Linked DNA regions of Homo sapiens. The protein of the gene in region 2 purifies or fractionates together with the protein of the main gene of each other region. This does not show direct contact. Each region holds a gene or a part of one and is shown on either strand. Other genes may lie near its edges. The genes, in order: XRCC4, HSDL2 and PIN4.

The links.
Region 1: the proteins of HSDL2 (region 2) and XRCC4 purify together in Homo sapiens (affinity purification with mass spectrometry, with the first as the bait; one large-scale study listed by BioGRID). This does not show direct contact.
Region 3: the proteins of HSDL2 (region 2) and PIN4 fractionate together in Homo sapiens (co-fractionation; one large-scale study listed by BioGRID). This does not show direct contact.

What each region holds. Positions count from the first base shown.
Region 1 is NC_000005.10:83,108,497-83,112,152, reverse strand, and holds part of XRCC4 (DNA repair protein XRCC4), read right to left. Parts: intron 1,126-3,656; coding exon 950-1,125; intron 1-949.
Region 2 is NC_000009.12:112,383,072-112,386,727, reverse strand, and holds part of HSDL2 (hydroxysteroid dehydrogenase-like protein 2), read right to left. Parts: intron 1-3,656. UniProt on the Homo sapiens protein: Has apparently no steroid dehydrogenase activity. Controls bile acid (BA) and lipid metabolism in response to nutritional cues.
Region 3 is NC_000023.11:72,195,218-72,198,873, forward strand, and holds the end of PIN4 (peptidyl-prolyl cis-trans isomerase NIMA-interacting 4), read left to right. Parts: intron 1-1,567; coding exon 1,568-1,687; intron 1,688-2,150; coding exon 2,151-2,309; 3' UTR 2,310-3,123; downstream 3,124-3,656.

The DNA.
Region 1 (3,656 bases), on a different chromosome or scaffold from region 2:
AAAAGTATGTTTATTTTAAATATAAATTACTAAGGGTAGTTTCTCTGCATTATTCCCTACACGATAATATAAATTTATAATGACTCCATTTGTTTCTACAAATGTTTATCTAATTAATGAAATCTCTTTAATTATTCCAAATTTAAAAGGTTGATTTAAAAGAATTTCCTAAACTCAGTTGAGCACTAAAACAAATTCTCAATACATTTCTGTTAACTTAATGTAGCAAACATTTCCTTCCCTCTCCTTCAGAAATGATAGATCTCATATATGACTGAAAACCACTGGTTAAAAAAACAAATTCAGTATCTATTAAACTTAGGTAAAATATACAAATAATTAGTGCCAGACTTTAATAAATAAACCACCTGCCTTGATCTGAATTGGTGCAGGAACTGAGCAGAATAAGTAGCAGATACTCTTGTTTGCAAAGCTTAGGCTTCAAGTTATTTCTATTTTAATATTTTTAAATCTGACAATATAAAGTATCCTTAATACTTACTATGCATTTTTCAATTTCAAATATACTCTAGTAAAGTAGAAAATAAGTCATAATTATTCTATATTCAAAGATATATTTTGATTGATTTTATTTCTTAAAATCAATATTTCACAAAACTTTTTTCAATAAGACCTGTCACGATGGCCTAAAACTTCTGATCTCACCTTTTTCAAGATTATTCTTTTGTATAATTAACTCTGTAATACTTTAAAATTTTTCAAGCATTAAAAACTAAACACATTTTCCAATATTTATTTTTCATGATTCATTAATATATTTAATGACTTTAGCTTTGAAGTATTCTTCTAATTTGGAAACCAAGTACTTTTCAAGCTTTTGCTTCTGAGGTGTTCTGGGAATAATATAGTAGTCACTTAAATTTAAATATAATTCCTCAATAAATGCTCTGACATTTTACTATGTAACATTTTGGAAAGTTTTACTTACTGAGACATCTTTCAGGTTTTTCTCAAAGAAGAAATAACAAGACTCTTTAGAAAAATTAAACGTGTATACATCAGCTGGTCCTGCTCCTGACAACAATGCTTTTCTCAGTTCACCAACATATTTCCCTTTTTCCATTGCCATGTCATCAGCTTCTTGGGAAATCTCTGATTCAGAAACTATGGGAAATATTAACAAAAGTTTTAAAATGAAAAGTAAATGACTACACATGAGAAAATATTAGTTTATCTGTTAGTACTAATTTATCACATGTAACAGAAATTCAAACAAGTAAAATCAATCCCTATACTACACATTTTTAAATCAAATTATTCCTTTTTACTGAACTAGCAATTTTTGAGAAATGCATTAATTTAGACTCACATCTCGTAAAATACATTAAACCCTTGACATTCTTTCTCTGTCTTCAGATGAAACGCATTGTAAATTATTACAGAAACTCCCACTTTGTGTAACTGCTCTTAGGTCAAAGCCAGATAATTTCCTACAATGAATAATAAGTTCAGTATTTTATAACATCTTTCTTCCTTGCATCAAAGATTCAATAGCCTATACTGTGTTTCTCACTCATATGGGCAGAGTAAAACAAAAGCAAAAGTGGAGCTCACTATTCTCATATCATGTGCCAACAACAGAAAATATGGATGAAAGGAGATGATAAGGAAATAATAGGAAGGAAACTAAAATGTACGAGCATCTCCTCTGCAACACATACTATACTAGAGACCGCTTCCAATTCTCTTATCTAGGTATTTTTAAAGCTGATGTTTTACTATCATTGAGATTTTTGTTTCAATAATTATATTTTCAATTCTAGATATTATCTTTGTTCCTTTGTCATTATATCCTGTTCTTATCCTACCCTTCTTTTAAATATTTAAATAAACGTATTTTAAGATCTCTTTCATTTCTGTATTTATGTGTGGCTCCTGGGGTATAAATTATGTTTCTTCTATCTGTGGAAAAATTCTTGTTTTACTTGTTTTCCTTTCATGCTTTGTAACATTTGAGTACAGCTCACCTCTAGCCAAAGTGGCAAGTGCTCTGGGAAGAAGTGGTCTTAAATGAAGGTTGCCTTTCTGGGGGTCATTACAAGTTTTATCAGTTTGGGACTAGTTTTGAAAGTTAATTTCTCACCTCGATTTTTACATTTGAGGCAAAGTGTTCCATTTTAAACCTCCCATCCACACATAACACAGGTTTAGGGTTCTGATTTTTCTTGAGACTTTTATTCACTCATAGTCCTTAGGGATTGTTCTGTTTTTATGCTGCATCCTCTGGACAGAGAGTAGTAGTTTTTTTAAAAGATTATTTTATTAACAGCATATATTTTCCAGGTTCCTTTCTTTATGCTGAGAGCTCAACTCCAATTCCCTAAGAGGTCTGAAGCCTCAACATTCTACCTCACTCAAACATTATACTCACTGTCATCTAGAAGTATATCTAGTTCAGATATTCCATGAATCTACAAGTAAGCTTTAATTCTCATCAATTACTTTGGTTTTGAAATACCTCTTCAAACATGGTGTCTGAGGTTTTCCCTTTCTTACACTCAAAAGTGGCAATGGGTCTGCATACTTGTTTGTTTTTAAAATTACAAGATTCAATCTCGTTATTTGTTGGAATGTGTGTGTGGTTGGATGGTTTCCTGTGTTAATTTAGGCTATCACAGTAATGATAAAAGTCTCATATGGTTGTATAATTTCATACTTATGCATTACACTTATCTATTTTAATTCCTTATAAAACTGAAAAACAGATATTATTTTCATTTTGCAAAAGAGAAAACTGAGGCTCACAGAGATCAAGTAATGGTCTAGGGTGATGAAGTAAGTAACTAGTGAAGCTGGGATTAATACTCATATCTCTCTGCATGTTTTATTTTGAGGTGAAGCAGAGACATGAAACATTGGATAAATTATTTCCATCCATAATTTTGAAAAACAACATTAGTATAAAATATTACAGAATATAAGGAAATCATGATTAAAGAATCCCTAAAATGGAACACACATTTTCATACCTTTGGTCTCTATGCTATCAAGTGTCTGGAAGACCCATGACAGTTAATGAAAAAGGGAGTCTTGCAAGGTACCAATATTTTTATATGATCAATTTTTGATAACAAGTTTTGATAATAAAATATGATTCTCATACGTCACACAACCTTTGGAAGGAGGTAAGAATAAAAATAGCTTATATTCATATATTAACAGCTTCTAAAACACTTTCACATTTTCTCTATTGGAAGTGGACACATTTAATATGATCATCACTATCAAACCTATTGATCTTTCAAATGCCCTAGTAGCTCTTCTAAAAAAAAAAAAAGAAGAAGATAAATGCTTCCTATTTAAGGAATAATTTCATATTTTGTGTTTGCATTATGTTAAAAAGTAACTATCTAACTTTAACTCACCAATACCTAGGAAGAACAGTTATTTCACAGAGAAATAGGAAATAAATTTGTAGATGCCATCTTTAATGCGGCCATAGAAAAACTTGAAGAAAACACAAAAGAAAACAGAGAACATCTATTTAAAAAGCATCTAGTTAAAAGTATTCTAAATTTCATTAAAATGAAAAGATACCTGTCTGAAAATATGTAATCATTCATTCATTCCAAAAATGCTAGCCTGTGGAGCTCAAATTCAAGTGCTAATATCTTAGACAACATTTTAGATATCTG
Region 2 (3,656 bases):
TACTGGAGACTTGACCTTCCCAGCTCAACTAATCCTCCCACTAAGCCTCCTGAATAGCTAGGATCACGGGTGTGCATCACCACGCTTGGTTAATTTTTATTTTTTTTTGGTAGAGACAGAGTCTTACTGTGCTGCCCAGGGTGGTCTTGAACTCCTGGGCTCAAGCGATTCTCCCACCTTGGCCTCTCAAAATGCTGGGATTACAGGCATGAGCCACCATGCCAAGCTCAAAATTATTTTTATTTGTTGACTTTTATATATAGCAATTTTCTTAAACTTTTATTAATTATAATAATTCAGTTATACATTATTTTGGTTTTCTGTGCAGGATAATATCATCGGCAAATAACGACAGCATTATTTATTTCATTATAATCCAAATACTTTTTCTTCCTGTCTTACACCTTATTTACTAAAGGTTACACTTCAGTCAGAAGAAAAGTGTTTCCAGATGGAAGGTCTGAAATTCAAGAAAATAGGAAAATCAAAGATATTGGTAAATAAGTACAGAAATCTTGTTTAGAAAGAGTACAATAATAATAAAATAATACTTGTGGGGTTAAAAAAGAGAATTAAAATATATTATTACAAACCAGCCTGGGCAACATAGTGAGACCCCACCTTTACCAAAAAAATATTTTTTTAATTAGTTGAGGCCTAGGCATGGTGGTTCATGCCTGTAATCACAACACTTTGGGAGGCTGAGGTGGGTGGATTGCTTGGGCCCAAGTTTGAGACCAGCCTAGGCAACATAGCAAGACCATGTTACTATTTAAAAAAAAAAAATTAAATTAAAAAAATTGGCCGGGCATGGTGCCTAACACCTGTAATCCCAGCTCTTTGGGAGGCCGAGGTGGGCAGATCACCTGAAGTCAGCTCAAGACCAGCCTGGCCAACATGGTGAAACCCCGTCTCTACTAAAAAATACAAAAATTGGCCAGGCACAGTGGCTTACGCCTGTAATCCGAGCACTTTGGGAGGCTGAGGTGGGCGGATCACAAGGTCAGGAGTTTGAGACCAGCCTGACCAACATGGTGAAACTCCATCTCTACTAAAAATACAAAAAAAAAAAAATCGGCCAGGCGTGGTGGCAGGTGCCTGTAATCTCAGCTACTCGGGAGGCTGAAGCAGAATTGCTTGAACCCTGGAAGTGGAGGCTGCAGTGAGCTGAGATCGCGCCACTGCACTCCAGCCTGGGCGACAGTGCAAGATTCTGTCAAAAAAAAAAAAAATTAGCCAGGTGTGGTGGTGCATGCCTGTAATTCCAGCTACTCTGGACGCTGAGGCAGGAGAATCGCTTGAACCCAAGAGGCAGAGGTTGCAGTGAGCCTAGATCGCGCCACTGCACTCCATCCTGGGCGACAGAGCAAGACTCCATCTCAAAAAAATAAATAAATAAATAAAACTTAAAAACTTTTAAAAAAGAAGTCTGATCTCTTACCTATAGGTGACCAGCTTCATTAATTTCTGGCCTATCATTTTTGTACTTTTTTCAAACATAAGCAAACATATATATATATAAAACACTCTATGTATGTGAAAAACTATCCCTTCCTTTTTTCATACAAAAGGTAGTATACATAAAATATTAAAGTGGTTCTGTTGTTGTTGTTGTTGTGTTTTTCTTTTGACAGTCTTGCACAAGTTTTTCACTACTGCAAGCAAGGCTGTAGACAGGTCGTGGTGACCTAGCCTGCAGAAATGAACTCCAGACACCCCTGAGCAAGGTTAAAAGACGAAAAACAATTTCCTTTACTGTCTCTCTTGTACTATTAGTTATGACTATGTTTGCCAATGCTTGTATTTAGTAAGATTTGCAAAGTTCCTGTTTTTCTTTCGATGCAGCTGCTAGGCCACTAGCTATGCAAGGCCACAGGTTAGTGCCAGGTCAGCAGTTATGCTATGGATTACGTGATTTGTCACTGTAAAATTTACTGCCTTTGTTTTGATCTTGTATGCTGGCCTATATAAGCTAAACTCTGTTTTTGTTCAAGGCTCAGCTTTTTGGATGTGAATCCACTGAGCCGGTGAGTACCTTAAATAAACATCCTCCTGTCTTCCCAATATCGGTCTCTCTGGTCCTCAGTTTACCACAACAGCCTCAACAGCTCATGGCAGCGTCAACCTCCTGGGCTCAAGTGATTCACCTCAGCTTCCCAAGTAGCTGGGACCACAGGCTAAAGTGATTTTTAATGTAAGTATTTACAAGAAAATGTCCCAACTATTGCTGTAAAAAAAAGCCATATCTCTTTGCTTTGAGTATAGCTTGATTGATTCCCAGTAGGAGAAAGGGCATTTTCTTCCTCACTCAGAGTCTCTGGCATTGGCAGAAAAAAAAGCAAACATAACCCTGATCTGTGCCAGTAAGAAGTCCTCCAGCTCCAAAGCATTAGTACCAGAATATAGAAGGCAAGAGCACTTCAAAGAAGGCTCCAAATTTCTTAGTATTATTGATAGATGGCTAAAACTTGCTGATGAAGAGCTAACTTACAGTTTAATTTACTAAAATTCTCTGGTACCCCAAAATCAGGTAAAAGTACTGAAATTTTTAGTAAAAGGAAGAACAACTGTTTCCAAAAAACTATACAAATTATTCTAAACTTCATTTGGAAAAATAAATACCCAAGTATAACCAGGAAAATTCTGAAAAATAATCCAAATGTGGTGGGAACTAGCTTTCCCACATATTAAAACATTTTGTAAAACTAGAGCAATTAAAATAGTTTGGGCTGGGTAGAGTGGCTCACATCTGTAATCCTAGCACTTCGGGGGCTGAGGCAGGAGGATCACTTGAGCCCAGGAGTTTGAGACCAGCCTGGGCAACAAAGTGAGACTCCTCTACAAAAAAATTTTTTAAAAATAGCCAGGCATTATGGCGCATGTCTATAGTCCCACCTAATTGGGAAGATGAGCTGGGAGGACTGCTTAACCCCAGGAGATCAAGGCTGCAGTGAACTATGATGGTGCCAATGCACCCCAGCCTGGGTGACAGAGCGAGGCCCTGTCTCAATTAATTAATTAAGTAAACAGTCTGGTACTGGTACATGAATAGAGACTAAAGTAGCAGAGCAGAAAGTCCAGAAACAGAGCGCTATATGTGCAAGAATTTAATATACAACAGAGGTAGAATTTCGAGCAGAAGAGAAAAGATTAACTCTTAGGTCAATGCTGCTAGGACAAATGAGCAGCCATCTGAAGAAAAATCAAGTGGGCTTCCTAACTCACTTCCTGAAAGAAATCTCAGGGGGATAAAAAAATCTGACTATAAAAAATATAGACAATACAAATATATTTGAAAAATACAAAAATATAAGACCATAAAAATATCAGAAGAAAACTAATTATAAAAAGATCTGCCCAGGCACGGTGGCTCACACCTGTAATCCCAGCATGTTGGGATGCCGAGTCAGGAGGATTACTTGAGGTCAGGAGTTTGAGACCAGCCTGGCCAACATGGTGAAACTCCATCTCTACTAAAATTACAAAAATTAGCCGGCATGGTGGTGTGCGCCTGTAATCCCAGCTACTTGTGAGGCTAAGGCAGGAGAACCACTTAAACCTGGGAGGCAGAGGTTGCAGTGAAACGAGATCGCACCACTGCACTCAAGCCTGGGCAACAGAGCAAGATTCCATCTCAAAAAAAGAAAGACAGAAAG
Region 3 (3,656 bases), on a different chromosome or scaffold from region 2:
ATGGCTTTATGTAAACATAGGTCAAATTTGAATACTTCAGTAGGGTTGGGCGTTCTTAATATTCAACCTATGATACCTTTTCAAAGTGTGGAATTGTGGGGAGGCTTATACATTGGGTCTCTTTTAGTAAGAAATACTTCCTGGCCAGGCACGGTGTGCTGACACCTGTAATCCCAGCACTTTGGGAGCTGAGGTGGGCAGATCACTTTAGGCCAGGAATTTGAGACCAGCCTGGCCAACACAGTGAAACCCATCTCTACTAAAAATACAAAAAGTTAGCTGGGCGTGGTGGTGCGCACCTATAGTCCCAGCTACTTGGGAGGCTGAGGCAGGAGAATTGCTTGAACCCGTGGGTGGAGGTTGCAGTGAGCCAAGATCGGGCCACTGCACTCCAGCCTGGGCAACAGACGGAGACTCTGTCTCAAAAAAAAAGATAGAAATACTTTCTAGCAGGTTTTTTCTTATCCTCACTCTGATGAAATAATAGCTAGCCGTTGGTCAATGGTAGCTGCATTATCTCAATCTTCACAATCCTATGAGAACACATAGGTCCCGTTATCATTGCATCTTGATGTACAAATGGAGAAACACTTGGAGGTTTAAAAACATGCGTAAGTTCAGCCAGGCATGGTGGCTGACGCCTGTAATCCTAGCACTTTGGGAGGCCGAGGCGGGCAGATCACTTGAGGTCAGGGGTTCAAGACCGGCCTGGCCAACGTGGTGAAACACCATCTCTACTAAAAATACAAAAATTAGCTGGGCGTGGTAATGGGTGCCTGTAATCCCAGCTACTCGGGAGGCTAAGGCAAGAGAATTGCTTGAACCCGGGAGGCAGAGGTTGCAGTGAGCTGAGAGCACACCACTGCACTCCAGCCTGGGAGACAGAGTGAGACTCCGTCTCTAAATAAATAAATAAATAAAGCCTAAGTTCATACAGCAGAGTTGGGATTTGATTCTAGGACCACAGCTCTCAACCCGTATCGTGTTTCCTCCTCCTGTTAGCATGAAGGTATATGGTAAAAGATGGGAGCTTCCCGGCCGTGAGCGGCGGCTCACGCCTGTAATCCCAGCACTTTGGGAGGCCAAGGCGGGTGGATCACGAGGTCAGGAGTTCAAGACCAGCCTGGCCAACATGGAGAAACCCCATCTCTACTAAAAATACAAAAATTAGCCAGGTGTGATGGCACATAGCTGTAAACCCAGCTATTCAGGAGGCTGAGACAGGAGAATTGCTTGAACCCGGGAGGCAGAGGTTGCAGTGAGCCGAGATCACACCACTGCACTTCAGCCTAGGTGACAGAGCAAGACTCCTTCTCAAAAAAAAAAAAAAGGCGGAGCTTCCCACAGCCAGGTGCCTATTTTCCATCTAAATCAGGACTCTGAGACATTGTCTTAATATGGGGAATGGGATTGTGGTTGTTGTCCTGGGCAAACTTCCAGGATTTTTACTTGCTATGAACTAATGTGTTTTTTTTTTAACTGGTGGGGGTAATCCAAATGTAACCACTGTACTTTAAGGAGTCATTTGGGTCTCCAAGTATTACATGAATGTACTTTTTCCTTGCAGGTCAGACACATTCTATGTGAAAAACATGGCAAAATCATGGAAGCCATGGAAAAGTTAAAGTCTGGGATGAGATTCAATGAAGTGGCCGCACAGTATAGTGAAGATAAAGCCAGGCAAGGGGTATGTTGCTCTTATTATTTATAATTTTCTCTCAAGGTAAGAAAGCAAAGTAAAAATGACAAATAATAAAATAAGATAAAAATTCTCCATCCTCCACAGAAGAAACACAGAAGTAGGGATCATTCCTTTGTTCAACCATTGGTTGTAGCGATATTTTGGTTTAAAGATCTCAAAAGCAGAAATGTCCAACTTGTAAATAGTAGAATAAGGGTCATCTATGTCAAAACCTATGCATGACCAAACTTGCACGGCTAACTTCAAAGTCCAGCAGTGTTGAGAGTACTTATGTGTTCAGTCTAGTTAGACTTCTTCTACCTATTTGTCCTTATTGAGCCTATTCCTGTATTGCTCTTAGGAATATACCTCGTAACCTTAGCAAAATGTTGGGAAATTCTCTCAAGCTACAGTAGAACTGTTCCCTCTTCTGGGCCACTTGATATCACTTATCTTTTGGGTTTTTCAGGGTGACTTGGGTTGGATGACCAGAGGGTCCATGGTGGGACCATTTCAAGAAGCAGCATTTGCCTTGCCTGTAAGTGGGATGGATAAGCCTGTGTTTACAGACCCACCGGTTAAGACAAAATTTGGATATCATATTATTATGGTCGAAGGAAGAAAATAAAATCATATGAAAGACTGAATAAGTTTTATACATTTTGTTTCTTTAAAAGGTATTACATATTCTTTTGAGCTGGAGCTGCAAGGAAATACAAAAATTTTTAAAAAGAAAAGATATTGGATGCTCCTTGTATTCTGTGAAAGCTCTAAGTATGGGTTTGTAGGTGTAAGAGAGGGTGGGGCTAAGTGAATGTCAACTGTAGTAGGTATTCAGTCAGTCTTTCTCAAAGAGAAGTCAAGCAGACTCCCTTTAACCTGTATTCTCTTTCCTCCCAGAACTATATCTGACTCTCAGTCTGTCCCATAAATTAATTCAGAAACCATCTTCAGGGGAAGCAGATATCAACTCACACTATTCACACAACTGAAAATATTGGGCATCAAATAGATTAGTGTGTGAGAATCATAAAATAAGTTCCTAGACAACATTTGTTTTACATGTTAGTCAACTCTGATCTTCCAGGACAGGTGGTATTAGCTCCACTGTCTTAACATAGTACGTGGCACGTTATGCCTTTCAGTGTTAACTCCTTTCTTTTTAAATAAATGTTTATTGGAGGAAAAAAGCACTCAGTTGTTCCATGAGTTGTTTTGTACTAGACTAACCGAGTGCTGGTTAAAGGGAGGGATGTCAGCATAAAAATGTCATTCCCTCATCTTCAGTGTATGGGTTACATTAAGACTGTCCTTTCCAGGGCCAATGTTCTGTGCATCTAAATTTTTAAAATTTAAAATGCCATATTTATGACATATAAAAAAGTATAAAGATTACTAATATAAATACTATACTGCTTCAAAAATAAAACTTTGCCAACACAGCTATGTGATTCTTAACAGATTATTTTAACACACTGCCTTCTCTCCCTCAGCTGCATTTGATATTATACCCACTTATATAATGGGAACTTTACCTAGATACCTGACTTTCCCACTTGAGAAGAGTTTCTGAGCACCTCAGTAGGTTATGCCTCCATGAGATTTTCCCCACGGAGCAGATATGCCAGTGTATACAGAGAAGTTCAAATAGATATAAGATGAAACTATGGCTGGGCCCAGTGGTGTGCGCCTGTAGTCTTAGCTACTTGGGAGGCTGAGGCAGGAGGATCACTTGAGCCCAGGAGTTCTGGGCTGTAGTGTCCTATGCCAATCGGGTGTCAGCACTAAGTTCAGCATCAATACAGTGACCTCATCTGGGCACAGTGGCTCAGGCCTATCATCCCAGCATTTTAGGAGGCCAAGGTGGGAGGATCACTTGAGCCTTGGAGTTCGAGGCTGCAGTAAGCTATGACCATGCCCCCTGCACTCCAGACTTCAGCCTGGGCAACAGAGGCCCTGCCTCTTAAAAAAAAAG